2 linked regions of the Homo sapiens genome follow. The protein of the gene in region 1 purifies or fractionates together with the protein of each later gene. This does not show direct contact. Each region holds a gene or a part of one and is shown in the gene's direction. Other genes may lie near its edges.

Region 1 (7,924 bases):
GAGCCACCGCGCCTGGCCAACGGAATCTTATTCTGTCCCCCAGGCTGGAATACAATGATGGGATCTCAGCTTACTGCAACCTCTGCCTCCCAGGTTCAAGCGATTCTCCTGCCTCAGCCTCCCGAGTACCTGAGATTACAGGCACCCGCCACCACACCTGGCTAATTTTTGTATTTTTAGTAGAGACAGGGTTTCACCATGTTGGCCAGGCTGGTCTCAAACTCCTGACCTCAGGTGATCTGCCTGCCTCGGCCTCCCAAAGTGCTAGGATTACAAGTGTGAGCCACCATGCCCAGCTGCATATCACTTTCTTATAGGATGCTCCAAAGGTAGTCTAGTTACCAAGAAAGAGTCATGGTGATCAAGTTTGTTTTGTTTTTTTTTAAATACTTGTCATGTATGGACACCATTCTTTTCAGCAGATTATTTGAGTGATATGTACAATAATGTGGTATGCATGGGGGATAAAGCTGTGAGCAAGACACATTTAATCCATATCCTCAAGGACCTTTGGTCTGGCCATCTAGTTCTGTAGTTGGGAGACTTTTCCTGTAAAGGACCAGACAGTGAATATTTTAGGCTTTGCAGGCCCTATGGTCTTGGTTGCAAATACTGAATTCTGCCATTGTGATGCAAAAGTAGCCACAGACATTATTTAAATAAATGAGTGTGGCTATGTTCCAATAAAACTTCATTTACAGAAATAGGCAGTGGACTTGATTTGGCCTGCAGGTTGTAGTTTGCCGACTCTTGGTCTAGTTTATTTGTTTCTTGGCCTCTGTCTCTCTTTCTTGCTCATATTCACAGCAGCAATTTTCATAGAGTTCCATTGATTTATTTGTTACAGTTATGTAGGTAAGATTGTGGAAGAACTGGATCTTTTACAACTGATAAAAGCTAACTCTTGTATTTTCTTTTACTCTTTTATCCAGGACATTTTATTTCCTTACATCGAAGAAAATGTTAAAGAGTATCTGCAGACACATTGGGAAGAAGAGGAGTGCCAGCAGGATGTCAGTCTTTTGAGGAAACAGGTTGGGACATTTCTGTCTTAAATTCCCAAGTGTCTTAGAAATGAGGGTACCTGGAGATTTAGGACATGCTCTGAGCATTTTGTAAAATAAGTGCCCTGGTTTGATAGGGGATAGAAGTTGCAGTGACTTAGTGAGTTGCCTGCTTAGGAATTCACAGTACATAATTAAAGGCTGGATCATGTCAGTTTGTTGTTTCTGGAGTTGCTCTTTGGTTGTTTTTTTTTGTTTTGTTTTGTTTTGTTTTTTTTGTTTTTTTTTGAGATGGAGTCTCACTTCGTTGCCCAGGCTGGAGTGTGGTGGTGTGATCTTAGCTCACTGCAACCTCGCTTACTGGGTTCAGGCGATTCTCCTGCCTCAGCCTCCCGAGTAGCTGGGACTACAGGCACCTGCCACCATGCCCAGCTAATTTTTTGTATTTTTAGTGGAGATTGGGTTTCACCGCATTGGACAGGCTGGTCTAGAACTCCTGATTTCAAGTGATCTACCCTCCTCGGCCTCCCAAAGTGCTGGGATTACAGGCATGAGCTTACCACCCCCAGCCCACCCAAAAAGGGCTTAAGTTTGCAAATATATGATATTGTTAGGCAATTTAAATAGCTCTAGAAAAAGGCAACTCTAGGCTGGGCACGGTGGCTCACACCTGTAATCTCAGCACTTTGGGAGGCCGAGGTGGGTGGATCACTCGAGGTCAGGAGTTTGAGACCAGCCTGGCCAAAATGGTGAAACGCTGCCTCTACTAAAAATACAAAAAATTAGGCCGGGCGCGGTGGCTCACGCCTGTAATCCCAGCACTTTGGGAGGCCGAGGCGGGCGGATCACGAGGTCAGGAGATCGAGACCATCTCGGCTAAAACGGTGAAACCCCGTCTCTACTAAAAATACAAAAAATTAGCCGGGCGTAGTGGCCGGCGCCTGTAGTCCCAGCTACTTGGGAGGCTGAGGCAGGAGAATGGCGTGAACCCGGGAGGCGGAGCTTGCAGTGAGCCGAGATCCCGCCACTGCACTCCAGCCTGGGCGACAGAGCGAGACTCCGTCTCAAAAAAAAAAAAAAAAAAAAAAAATACAAAAAATTAGCCGGACATGGTGGCGGGCACCTGTAGTCACAACTCCTTGGGAGGCTGAGGCAGGAGAATTGCTTGAACGTGGGAGGTGAAGGTTGTAGTGAGCCGAGATGGCGCCACTGCACTCTAGCCTGGGCTACAGAGCAAGACTCCGTCTCAAAAAAAAAGAGTCCTTTCTGGGTAGAATGCAAAAGGTTTTGAGCAGTCTCTACATTTTTTATTAACGTCTCTATATTAGTCTGTTCTCACATTGCTGTAAAGAAATACCTGAGAGTGGGTAATTTTTAAGAAAAGAGGTTTAATTGGCTCACAGGTCTACAGGCTATACAGGAAACATAGCGGCATCTGCTTCTGGGGAGACCTCAGGAAGCTTCTAATCATGATGGAAGGCAAAGCCGGAGCAGGCGTCTCAGATGGTGAAAGTCAGGAGCAAGAGAGTGGGGAGGGGAGGTGCTACACACTTTAAAACAACCAGAACTCACTATTGTGAGGACAGCATCAAGGAGGATGGTGCTAAACAAACCATTCACGAGAAGTCTATCCCCGCGATCCAGTCACCTCCCACTAGGCCTCACCTCCAGCACTGAGGATTACATTTCAATGTGCAATTTGGGTGGGGACACACATCCAAGCCATGTCATTCTCCATATGACAGTACTTCATCATTTTGCACTCCCTCCTTCCTTACTGCAAGCCCCTGCTGCCCCCTCTGCAGTGCTCCTGGGTCCTCACACTCACACTCCCCTTCCAGACTCCTCACCCCAGCTCACTCTGGCCCAGCCCTCATACCTCCTTTGGTCTCCTGTGCTTTGTTCTACCCTCTTCTCCCCACCAGTCATCAGTCTGTCTTTTCCTTCCACATTGTGTGCTATGGAACTCCTGCTCTGTTGTTTTTCTTGTTAAAATTGCTTCAGTGGCAAAGATCTTACATGGTCTGCAGAGCTAACTCACTGGCAGTTATTTTCTAGTTCTATATTGGATACTGTGGAATGCTCTCTGTGGATGTTTTACTGTTAGGAATTAGGATTCAAAATGTAGTTATGTCCTTTGGGCATGGAATATTTGGGATTTTAATTTTCTGGATAACTCAGGGTTAATCTGAAATACAGTGAGTCCTTACTTAATGTTGTCTTTAGGTTCTTGGAAACTAAGTGAAATGACACTTAAATTTCAATTTTCAATTTTAAACCAACCATAACAAAACCAATTTTTTCTCCACATAAATGTTATAACAAAATGATGTTGAAGGAAATGACATTACTTGAGAAGGTCATGCCACTTGAAGTCACAGTTTCCAAGAACCTTTCAATGATGTTAAATGAGGACTTACTTTACTTTCCTCCCTTACCTTTTTTTGTTGTCAAAACCTTGTTGAAACATACATACATAGTCCCCCATTATTGTATATAAATATGTACACATGTATCTTTAGAAATTGGACTGCTTTGTCACAAGGTCATTGTTCTAAGTGGCTACTAGGATTTTTGCAAGATGTGGGAGATTATAGGAGACTGAATGTGAACCAACCTCATTACTTCACTAGCTTCTTTTTGCTGAATTCCAGGCATAAACTAATTTATGAGATTTTCTTTGTTTCTTTCTCCATTAGTTATAGTGCAGAGAAAATTATCAGATTGAGTTAAAGTCCTGGTTTGTTGATCCCAGTAGTGAATCAACAAATCAAATCTTAATTCTATCATTATGTGCTCTCTCTTCTCATATACAACATGCGTCTCAGTTTAAATTTCAGCTTTTAGCAAAAGGAAAGGTAATGTAAATTTATTAATCCAGGTTCTTTTAGGAATCATTTGTATCAGCTCCAAAGTATATGATGTTTCAATTTGCAGCCATACTAGGGCTAATGATGGAGAAAGTTGTTCTGCTGGGTTTTTGGGTCTCGTTTTAAATGACTGTTTTTTGAATAAGCAAAAAACAAACATCATGTTGTTTCTGACTTAAAGGCTGAAGAGGACGCCCACCTGGATGGGGCTGTTCCTATCCCTGCAGCATCTGGGAATGGAGTGGATGATCTGCAACAGATGATCCAGGCCGTGGTAGATAATGTGTGCTGGCAGATGTCCCTGGATCGAAAGACCACTGCACTCAAACAGCTGCAGGGCCACATGTGGAGGGCGGCATTCACAGCTGGGCGCATGAAAGCAGAGTATGTGCTTGAGTCAGCCTAAACATTTCACCAGTCCCAAATCCAAATATGTTTTTTCACCAGTCCTCTCTTTCCAGCGTAAGTCACAAGACTGGTAAAACAGATAAAAATCCACACTCTTTTTAGTCTAACAAGTGAGCTTTGTTTCATTTTTTCAAAACTTGGCTAAAATATTTCAGCTGACTAGATTACCCGGACCTGCCAGTCTGGTCTTGTGGGTTGATTGAAGGACTTGTCAAAGTCTCCGTTTAAAATAGCTTCCTAGAAAATGGTGACTTCCTTGAACTAAGTCATATTTGATTCTTAGCACATGAGTGACAGCTCCGTTGGGCTGCTTGCCTGGACTGTTAATTACCTGCTTTTTGCTCTATGAGACATAGGAAATTTTGTGCCCCACCGTGTTGAGGTTACTCAGAGGATGTCCGCACTACCACGTTCTTCTTTGCTCTTTTGAGCAACTTCCACAGATTCTTTGAGTCTTGGTTATGGAGTTCCTAATAGCACTCCTGCCTGAGGAGACTTTTGAGTATTATACTTACTGAGAAATTCTTGATTGATTCAGACAGGGTCCTACTCTGTTGGCTGGAGTGCAGTGGCATGATCATGGCTCACTGCAGCCTTGACCTCCCCTAGTTCAGGTGATCCTCCCACCTCAGCCTACCGAGTAGCTGGGACTAGGCATGTGCCACCATGCCCAGCTAGTTTTTGTATTTTTAGTACAGATGGGGTTCTACCATGTTGCCCAGGCTAGTCTCAAACTTCTGGGCTTGAGCGATCTGCCTGCCTTGGACTCCCAAAATGCTGGGGTTACAGGCGTAAGTCACAATACCTGGCCTATTTTTTTTTTTTTAGAGCTGGGGTCTTGCTCTGTGATCCACACTGGAGTGCAGTGGTGCCATCATAGCTCACTGTAGCCTTCAAGTGAACCTCCCGCCTCAGCCTCCTCATTAGCTGGGACCACAGGCACGCACCACCACACCTGGCTATTCAAAAAACATTTTTGTAGAGGTGTGGTCTTGCTATGTTGTCCATACCATATTGCTGATAAATTCTTTTCGTTTGTTTGTTTCTGTTTTTGCTTTGAGACCGAGTCTTGCTCTTTGCCCAGGCTGGAGTGCAGTGGCGCAATCTCAGCTCACTGCAACTTCTACCTCCTGGGTTCAAGCGATTCTCCTGCCTCAGCCTCTGGAGTAGCCGCCTGCCACTATGCTAATTTTTGTATTTTTAGTAGACATGGGGTTTCACCATATTGGCCAGGCTGGTCTTGAACTCCTGACCTCAAGTGGTCCACCCCATCTCAGCCTCCCAAACTGCTAGGATTACAGGTATGAGCCACCCCTCCCGGCCTATTTTTGTTTTTGGAGATAGTCTCACTCTGTTGTCCAGGATGGAGTGCATTCACACAATCTTAGCTCACTGCAACCTCCGCCCTCTGGGTTCAAGCAATTCTTGTACCTCAGCCTCCCAAACAGCGGGGACTACAGGTGCGTGCCACCACACCTGGCTAATTTTTTGTATTTTAGTAGAGACAGGGTTTTATCATGTTGTCCAGGCTGGTCTTAAGCTCCTGAGCTCAGGGCAGTCCACCTACCTTGGCCTCCCAAAGTGCTAGGATTACAGGCGTGAGCCACTGTGCCAGGCCTGCTGAGAAATTCTTTTTTTTTTTTTTTTTTTGAGACGGAGTCTTGCTCTGTCACCCAGGCTGGAGTGCAGTGGCGTGATCTCAGCTCGCTGCAAGCTCCGCCTCCTGGGTTCACGCCATTCTCCTGCCTCAGCCTCCCGAGTAGCTGGGACTACAGGCGTGTGCCACCACGCCCGGCTAATTTTTTGTATTTTTAGTAGAGACAGTGTTTCACCGTGTTAGCCAGGATGCTCTCGATCTCCTGACCTTGTGATCCGCCCCCCCTTGGCCTCCCAAAGTGCTGGGATTACAGGTGTGAGCCACTGCACCTGGGTGTGAAATTCTTAAGGATTTTAGGCCATTGCCTGCTGTAAACCCTAGGATCCAAGATTGTTTCCAGCTGCATATATTTCTTTTGTGTTTCTGTCAAATGAGATGTTGTTTCTTTATTTATGTACTTTACGAGGAGCTTCTACCTTTTAAAGGATGGACTGGAATTTCAGGATATGCCAGTGATCTGGGAATATCAGCCAGGTTCACTTTGTAAAGCACTCAAAAAAGTGGAGACAGGAGACTGTGCACCCGGTAGTTAGCCCATACTTCTCTTGGTCTTGGTTCCTTAATTATACAACTAACTGCTGAAGACAGGAAAAATCCTGTCTCCATGAGTGCAAACTAGTACTCAGAATAACATACTTACATGTGTACTGGTTTTGAATACGTTGATCTCTTTCCTTCAATTAGTGCAACATGTTAAGCATGTTAATACATATAAAGCGGAAGACTCCACTGACATTTTCCAGGTAATCTTTTAGAGATGACTGGTTCTACAACCCAAGTTCTTTGTGCTTCTCTTTTCACCTTTCTCCTGTGATGTTAATTTCCTCCATGACTATGGAAAACACTAGAATTGGTAAGAGAGACTGAGTGTCAGAAGTCAGAAAAAGACATCTTTTGCTGACTGGTTAATGTGAGTTGGTACAAGTCTCAACTGACTTGTTATGTAATTTTTTCCCCATATAATAAAACATTGTTTTCTTAGTTCTCAAAAAATGCAGGCCGGGTGCAGTGGCTCATGCCTGTAATCCCAGCACTTTGGGAGGCTGAAGTGGGGGGATCACTTGAGTCCAGGAGTTTGAGACCAGCCTGGGTGACATGGCAAAGCACCATCTCTACAAAAAATTAAAAAAAAAAAAAAAAAGCTGGGGGTGGTAGCACATGCTTGTAGTCCCAACTACCTGGGAGGCTGAGGTGGGAGGATCACTCGAGCCCAGGAGGTAGAGGTTGCAGTGAGCTGAGATCATGCCACTGCACTCCAGCCTAGGCAACAGAGCAAGACCCTGTCTCAAAAAAAAGTAATTCCATTTTCTAGCTAATCATAAGTTTATAGCTTTGAGCCTTCAAACTTTGTTTTGATTATTTTGGGTGCAGATCTTTCTAAAAGCATTTCCATGCTTTCTTAAAGCACAGTGGACATAATTTAACCTTTTCTTGTCATGAAGAACATCAAAGATTATATTATATCATTGCTGTTGTTTGCTTTTTTGAGTTCTTCGGGAATTTAAAAAACACTTTCCCATTTCATCCTTTTATCTGTAGTCCCTTTTTACTGTCACTAGTGGCTGTCTGTTCAAAACTATCCTCCTTTCCACATAGATTGTTGCTTCTAATCTGCTGTGAGCCTGGAACTTGGGCAGTATGTTTATTAGAACTGCAGGAGTTTGTAGTCTCAGGGAGCTGCTTCTCAGGTTACCATGTGGGCACAAAGAGAGAAACATATGGCATCTGTTTTGACAGGTTTTTATCTGGCTAGATGAGGTGTTCCTGTATTTTAACTTAGTGGTCTTCCCTCTAGGTTCTTTGCAGATGTAGTTCCAGCAGTCAGGAAGTGGAGAGAGGCCGGAATGAAGGTGTACATCTATTCCTCAGGGAGTGTGGAGGCACAGAAACTGTTATTCGGGCATTCTACGGAGGGAGATATTCTTGAGGTAGGTTACCTAGTTTACTTTGTTGTTTTGACGCTATCAAAGCATAAAATAATGAAT
Region 2 (8,104 bases), on another chromosome or scaffold:
CAAGTAGAAATCTCCCTCTCCTCCATGTGATTAAAATGACTTCAAGAACCATACAACATTACTTGGACATATTGTATGATGGTTAAAAAAAACCACACAATAACTCTGTACATTATATTAAAATATTAATGATGCAGATAAATTGTATCTACCTAAAAATGAGCCTGCAATTCCTCTTTTCAACCTCCTCTTTCACAGTCACCCTTCTTCCACTACTGAAAGGGAAGATGGACCCTTCACCCAGCCGGAGACTCATTTTGGTGCCTTGCCCCATGGATAACAATTCAAGAATACATCCTTTCCAAGAGTGAGACCTATGACAACAAATCCAAGAAAAATTCAGCAAGAAATATTAAAGCAGCTAGCATCACGCTGACATTCAGTTTTCTTATAAATGGAAGGTTTGAAATTTAACTTAAAATTTAGATGTGAAATGTTATCAGAGGTGCATTAATAAGTGCAATAATAAGAATACAAATATCTCATTATTTTAAATGGGCAAAATATTTGAATAGACGTTTCAATGAAGAAGATACACAGATGAAAAATAAGCCCATAGATGTCCTACATTATTCATCATTAGGAAAATGCCAATTAAAACCACAATAAAATACTTACACACATCTAGTTACAATGGCTAAAACATAAAAGATTGACCATACCGAAGGCTGGCAAGGATATGGAGGAACTGAAATCCTTATGCACTGCTGGTAAAATGATACAACAACTTTGGAAAAGTTTGGCAGTTTCTTAAACAGTTAAACATACATCTACCACATGATCCAACCATTCCACTCTTAGATATTTACCCAAGAGAAATGAAGGCATACATCCATACAAAGACTTGTACTCACAGCAGCTATATTTGTAATTCACAAAAACTGGAAATAAGCCAAATGGTCATCCATGGGTGAATAGAAAAATTGTGGTACATCCATACAATGGAATACTACTCAGCAATTTTAAAAAATAAATTCTCGACATAAGCAAAACATGGATGAATCTCAAAATAGTTATAGTGAATTAAAAAAATCCAGACCACAAAAAGTACATACTATATAATTCCATTTATATAAAACTCTAGAAAATGGAAATTAATCTACAGTGACAGAAAGTACTGTACGATAGAAGGGAGGATTTACAAAAGGGCATGAGCAAATTTGTGGGTAATATTTTGTGGCTCATTATCTTGATTATGGTGATGTTTGCATGAGTGTAAACTTGTATGAAAACATCCAATTGTATACTTTAAATATGTTCAGTTTATGTCAACTATCTCTTTTTTTTTTTTTTTTTTTTTTTTGAGACGGAGTCTCATTCTGTCACCCAGGCTGGAGTGCAGTGGTGCAATCCTGGCTCACTGCAACTTCCGCCTCCCGGGTTCAAGCAATTCTCCTGCCTCAGCCTCCCGAGTAGCCGGGATTACAGGTGCACGCCACCATGCCCAGCTAATTTTTGTATTTTTAGTAAAGACGGGGTTTCATCATGTTGGTCAGGCTGGTCTCGAACTCCTGACCTTGTGATCCGCCTGCCACAGCCTCCTAAAGTGTTGGGATTACAGGCATGAGCCACTGCCTCTGGCTTTTTTTTTTTTTTTTTTTTTGAGATGGAGTTTCGTTCTTGTTGCCCAGGCTGGAGTACAATGGCGCGATCTCGGCTCTCTGCAACCTCCACCTGACAGGTTCAAGCGATTCTCCTGCCTCAGCCTCTCAAGTAGCTGGGATTACAGGCATGCGCCACCACACCTGGCTAACTTTTTTTTTTTTTTTTTTTTTGAGACTCAGTCTTACTCTGTCGCCCAGGCTGGAGTGCAGTGGCGCGATCTTGGCTCACTGCAAGCTCCGCCTCCCACGTTCACGCCATTCTCCTGCCTCAGACTCCCGAGTAGCTGGGACTACAGGCGCCCGCCACCACGCCCGGTTAATTTTTGGTATTTTTAGTAGAGACAGGGTTTCACCGTGTTAGCCAGGACGGTCTCAATCTTCTGACCTCGTGATCTGCCCGCTGCAGCCTCACAAAGTGCTGGGATTATAGGAGTGAGCCACTGCGCCCGGCCTTAATTTTTGTATTTTTAGCAGAGACGGGGTTTCACCATGTTGGCCTGGCTGGTCTCAAACTCCTGACCTCAGGTGATCCACCCACCTCAGCCTCCCAAAGTGCTGGAATTACAGGTATGAGCCACGGTGCCCATCCTATGGCAACTACACCTCAATAAAGCTGTCTACAAAATTAAAGAATGGTGAGAAGACTATTAAGTTTCATACCATTGGCTTATTCGAAGCCTAGTTCTATCAAGATTGAACATTTGTTCCTTGCCTAAACCATACAAGCTTCAAACTCCTTCACTTCCATAGCCTATCAATCCTATTTCTAGACTGTAACCTGCCCTTCCTCTTCCAAATCTGACCAGACATTTTATATGTGCTGTCAACACGAATATCCCAGAGTAAGCCATGCAAGAGTGTGGATGACTTAACTAAATGCACTGCCGCTACTTGAAAAATTTAGAGTTAAAATTTAATGAAGTTTAAACTCAGTGTAACTGACCTCTAATTGCCCTAAGTCTAAGGTCTTTTAAGAAGCTGATAGGTGCCGAGTGCAGTGGCTCATGCTGGTAATCCCAGCACTTTGGGAGGCAGGCAGATCACTTGAGGTCAGGAGTTCAAGACCAGCCTGGCCAACAGGGTGAAACCCCGTCTCTACCAAAAATATAAAAATTAGCCAGATGTGGTGGCACGCGCCTGTAATCCCACCTACTCGGGAGGTTGAGGCAGGGAGAATCGCTTGAACCCTGGAGGCAGAGGTTGCAGTGAGCCAAGATCATGCCACTGCACTTCCAGCCTGGGCAACAGAGTGAGACTCCATCTCAAAAAAACAAAAGGAAGCTGTTAGGTGAGCTATTGGTACATTAATCATATAGACAATCTTAGCAGGGTTGAAGTCTATAGGTATTGATTGATTTGACTACACTGTAAATTGTAAATAGATGCAATTTTAAGTTACCTGAATAAACTTTTCTATTCATTAACAGTAGTCATCTCAATTTTAGAGATTTACGTTATGCTCGTGCCTCCATCTGCACGCACAACATGGGAAGACAACAGACACCAAAGATACTTTGGATTCTTGCTGCTAAGTAAGTATTCAAGCACTACGTGCACGTTGTTACAATTAATAAGGCAATCTGACCCCATCCCTGCCACCAGGAAACTGCAATACTATTAATATATTAAAAAGGAAGACAACTGAGATAAAGGGAATGTGGGAGGTTGGGGGGGGTGCTTAGGAGATATCAGAATACAACCTCTTAGAATTACAGAATCTCAACAACCATCCTTTATGCCTGATCTTCGGTTCAGTAGCTCTAGGATTCCAAGGGGCCCCTCCTAACTGCATTGCCTTCTCTCCCCAATTCCCTTTCTCTCAGAATGTTACACCTTCCCCCAGTTAATAGTGTAGGCTTAAAATGTATCTAGGTGTTCTTACCTACTGACAAACTGCTGGAGTTGTTCATGGGAAAGGAATCAAGGCAAAATATCTAATGCATTCAGGTCATTCGAGTTTTCTTTTTAATTTATTGCTTTTTTGAGATGGGGCATCAGTATGTTGCCCAGGCTGAAGTGCAATAGCAGTATCTCTGCGAGACTCTGTCTCAAAAAAAACCCATTAGAGTCTTCACCTTAGGATGGACTAGGGCTATGGCATACTGGTAAGCATTTAAAAATAAAGGGGTATGATGGCCCGGATTTGCATTATCTGAGTAATGGGAATACTCCAACCCAGTCCGATTTCAAGGTCCCAGTGAGGTTACTGAATTCGAAGCTCAGAAGGTATGCGCCTAGTATTCCCACCATACGAATACAAGCGAGGTAAGTAACCTCAAAAGCATCGATAACAGTAAAATAGTTACAATACCTGTTACGCCTTTAGTATCCATTACCTTCGTTTAATTTAACTGTCAGTTTACATAACAAAAGAGTCTTTTAAGGCGTAAGCGCGCTCCTGGGGAGGGTATGGGGCTGTTGGCAGGGAAAGCAGCTTTTCGATCGTATAAATGCTCTTTGTGCCCAGACTGCCCTCTATAAATCAGCACTATCAACCCTGTCCAGAGACTTGCCCATGACCTCCAAGAAAACACTTTATTCATACTACTCCTAGCGTGCGCTCCTACCCGCCCCAGGGACTTCAGTCTTCCGGGGGAGGGATAACTACTTGGGGACACGGAGCACTGCGTACGCCCTGGGTCATGTGGGAAGGATGACCGCAAAGCCTCCAGTCGGCGCGCGGGTTCCGGGGCTGAGGGGCTGAGGGGCCCAAGGCGATAACCGGGATCCGCTCCGGCCGCGCTCCTCTTGCCTTTGAGAAGCCCCGGAAGTGGCCCGGCTGTTGGCCGCAGCGGGAGGTCTTCGGAAAGAAAAGGCCGGAACCAGAAGATAGACTCAACAGCGATGCCCTACCCGGACCCCGCCGGCCTCACACCCCGGCCAGCCAGCCGCCAGTAGTGCGCACCGCCTCCTCCCCAAGCCCCGCCCTGCGTCCACCCCAGGGGTTAACTCGCACGCGCGCTCTTGTGGCGGAGGTAGAGTGCGCCGTCCAGGGCTAGAGCAAGCGCGGCCCCGCGGCCCGGAGCCATGCTGAGGAGCTGCGCCGCGCGCCTCCGCACGCTGGGGGCTCTGTGCCTGCCGCCAGTAGGCCGGCGCCTGCCGGGAAGCGAGCCGCGACCCGAGCTGGTGAGTCTGGGCACCCTCGGGCATGGGGCGGGAGCAGGACTCAGAAACACGCCTGCGGTAACAGAGCCTTCGATTGTTATCCATACCCCAACCAGCCAATCTCAGAATAAAAGCTCACCTGGGCACCACAGGGCAGCATAAGCAACAGGGGCCTAGGAATACAGTCCTGAGATTCAAACCGTTAGAAAAGGGATGGAAAGGTGACCCCGTTTTTTTGTTTTTTAAGAGACAGGGTCGGCAGGGCGCTACCTGAACTGCATAATTTAGTCTGTCTATTTATATTTTGACAACATCTGTATTTTACCAATAATATTTGAGGCTGTTTTTATTTTTCAAAGATTAAAGTGACGTGAACTAAAAGATACCACAGCTTTTATCTTCCCTTTAAAAAAATATTTGATCCAAACGCTTATCTTCCTTTAGGTCAATTAATTAGAGATCTTTTTATAGACATCACACACAACACATATATAACTACACAGACAGGCAGAAGAAAACCCAGTTGCCATAAGATCTTTCATCACAGGGAGAGGGATCTATCTGCTTTTAATTCCTGGGGTTCCATGAGGAAAACAGAGATCGCCCCTCTTATGCAGGCATTAAAAGTGGCAAGGCAAAATGGAGAAAAATAACTCAGTCGACCGCAAAGAAACACTTTTTCCAGCAAAATAAGGTCCAAGAAAAGGAAAACATAAAGGCCTTATAAATATAATTACAACTTAGATATCTACTTTTAATTAAGCTGAGCACTCCTTAAGAAAATTCTTTTAACACCCTTATTATCTAACTTTAGCTCCACCAAGCGGCCAATATTTCTGGCTTTCAAACTTTACTTAAAGGCTCAGAGAAAGGAAAATCCAAGGTGGTTGGTGGAGGGCAGGGGAATCGACAAATAGCGAAAGGGCATACAGATACCAAACCAGAAAGGACTCATTCCCTAAGCCAGGATGAATCTGGGCCATGCCGGGCTAAACGAAGCTATGCAATGGGGTTACAGGCCACGCCCCCAAGGACGTAAAACAAGATGGAGGCCTGCAGCGAAGTTTGCTGTGGAGCATACAGAAAGACATGCAAAACACACAGATTGGCTACAGCTTACGACTTACCTCACAAATCCTTTCGCACAAAACTTTACAGAAAATATAAACGGTAATCCTCATCATTCCCAAAAGAGCAAAACGTCTTCCAAAAGGAAAAGAAAAACCTCCTTTAAAAGTATACTGCTGATGGGTTGGAGAGGAGATAAGGATGCCTGGGGGAAGAACCTCTTATTCCTATGCAAATGGTTCCTCCACCAGAGAGAGGAGCTTAATTGCTGTGGGACAGAGCTAGACTCCCTGGAATGGGGAGGGGGAGACTGCAGGCACCTGGTAGGGAACGCCAGCCAGCCATGCCGGCGCCTTGGAGCCTGGGCAGTGGCTGTGGCTCATTTATGCCCTGTGTGGCTACTGGACACCACACACACATGCTGCAGACACCACCATGCACCCCAGCCAGTAAAGAAGTGGGGCCAGGGAGCTACCCCACCCAACTGTCTTGTGAGTGCACTGGTGACCATTGGGGTGGGTGTGGACCACCTCCAGTATCGTAAAAAGAAAAATAGGTGCCGTTGCTGTCCCCCCAAAAAGAAGAGGAATGCCATAAGACCAAAAGGCTCAGAAATGAAAGTGAGAGGTTTTGAGTCCCCATTTCACTCATCCTTCTGTTGCAGGAATGAAGGAGGACTGGAGAGGCCATGGGGTGAGACAGGAGAACTTTATTGAGTGCACTCAGACCCAGCGGACTAACATCCAAAAGCTGGGCCCAGAACAAAGACAGCACTTGACTTTAATACACACTTTTAAAAGGGGGTGGGCTAGCTTGAAACAAGCTTACAGTGGCGTGAAGCATAGTGGCGTGAAAGCAAGGATACAGAGGCAGCACAAAGGCAATTAATTCATCAAATTGTGACAGGTGCATAATTCAGGATTACATACTGTGTCGGAATTGATGGGTTCTTGGTCTCACTGACTTCAAGAAAGAAGCCACGGACCCTCGTGGTGAGTGTTATAGTTCTTAAAGGCGGCATGTCCGGCGTTTGTTCCTTCTGATGTTCGGATGTGTTCAGAGTTTCTTCCTTCTGGTGGGTTCATGGTCTTGCTGGCTCAAGAGTGAAATTGCGGACCTTCGTGGTGAGTGTTATAGCTCTTAAGGCAGCACGTCTGGAGTTGTTCGTTCCTCCCGGTGGGTTTGTGGTCTCGTTGGCTTCAGGAGTGAAGCTGCAGACCTTCGCGGTGAGTGTTACAGCTCATAAAGGCAGTGTGGACCCAAAGAGTGAGCAGCAGCAAGATTTATTGCAAAGAGCGAAAGAACAAAGCTTCCACAGTGTGGAAGGGGACCCGAGCGGGTTGCCACTGCTGGCTTGGGCAGCCTGCTTTTATTCTCTTATCTGGCCCCACCCACATCCTGCTGATTGGTAGAGCCAAGTGGTCTGTTTTGACAGGGCCCTGATTGGTGCATTTACAATCCCTGAGCTAGACACAAAGGTTCTCCACGTCCACACCAGATTAGCTAGATACAGAGTGTCAACACAAAGGTTCTCCCAGTCCCCACCAGAGTAGCTAGATACAGAGTGTCGATTGGTGCATTCACAACCCCTGAGCTAGACATAGGGTGCTGATTGGTGTGTTTATAAACCTTGAGCTAGATACAGAGTGCCGATTGGTGTATTTACAGTCCTTTAGCTAGACATAAAGGTTCTCCAAGTTCCCACTAGACTCAGGAGCCCAGCTGGCTTCACCCAGTGGATCTCGCACTGGGGCTGCAGGTGGAACTGCCTGCCAGTCCCACGCTGTGTGCCCACACTCCTCAGCCCTTGGGTGCTCGATGGGACTGGGCGCCGTGGAGCAGGGGGCAGCACTCATCAGGGAGGCTCGGGCCGTGCAGGAGCCCACGGAGGGCGTGGGAGGCTCAGGCATGGCAGGCTGCAGGTCCCGAGCCCTGCCCCGCCAGAAGGCAGGTAAGGCCCAGTGAGAAATCGAGCGCAGCGCCAGTGGGCCGGCACTGCTGGGGGACCCAGTACACCCTCTGCAGCCACTGGCCCGGGTGCTAAGCCCCTCATTGCGTGGGGCCGGCAGGGCCGGCTGGCTGCTCCGAGTGCAGGGCCCGCCAAGCCCACACCCACCTGGAACTCCAGCTGGTCCACAAGCACCCCGCGCAGCCCTGGTTCCTGCTCGCGCCTCTCCCTCCACACCTTCCTGCAAGCTGAGGGAGCCGGCTCTGGCCTTGGCCAGCCCAGAAAGGCGCTCCCACAGTGCAGCAGTGGGCTGAAGGGCTCCTGAAGTGCCGCCAAAGTGGGAGCCCAGGCAGAGGAGGCGCCGAGAGGGAGCGAGGGC

What was found.
Region 2: the proteins of ENOPH1 (region 1) and THEM4 purify together in Homo sapiens (affinity purification with mass spectrometry; 2 studies listed by BioGRID and IntAct, with this or other methods). This does not show direct contact.

What each region holds. Positions count from the first base shown.
Region 1 is NC_000004.12:82,446,988-82,454,911, forward strand, and holds part of ENOPH1 (enolase-phosphatase E1), read left to right. Parts: intron 1-932; coding exon 933-1,034; intron 1,035-4,055; coding exon 4,056-4,258; intron 4,259-7,734; coding exon 7,735-7,867; intron 7,868-7,924. UniProt on the Homo sapiens protein: Bifunctional enzyme that catalyzes the enolization of 2,3-diketo-5-methylthiopentyl-1-phosphate (DK-MTP-1-P) into the intermediate 2-hydroxy-3-keto-5-methylthiopentenyl-1-phosphate (HK-MTPenyl-1-P), which is then dephosphorylated to form the acireductone 1,2-dihydroxy-3-keto-5-methylthiopentene (DHK-MTPene).
Region 2 is NC_000001.11:151,905,986-151,914,089, reverse strand, and holds the start of THEM4 (acyl-coenzyme A thioesterase THEM4), read left to right. Parts: upstream 1-4,578; 5' UTR 4,579-4,631; coding exon 4,632-4,730; intron 4,731-8,104. UniProt on the Homo sapiens protein: Has acyl-CoA thioesterase activity towards medium and long-chain (C14 to C18) fatty acyl-CoA substrates, and probably plays a role in mitochondrial fatty acid metabolism. Plays a role in the apoptotic process, possibly via its regulation of AKT1 activity.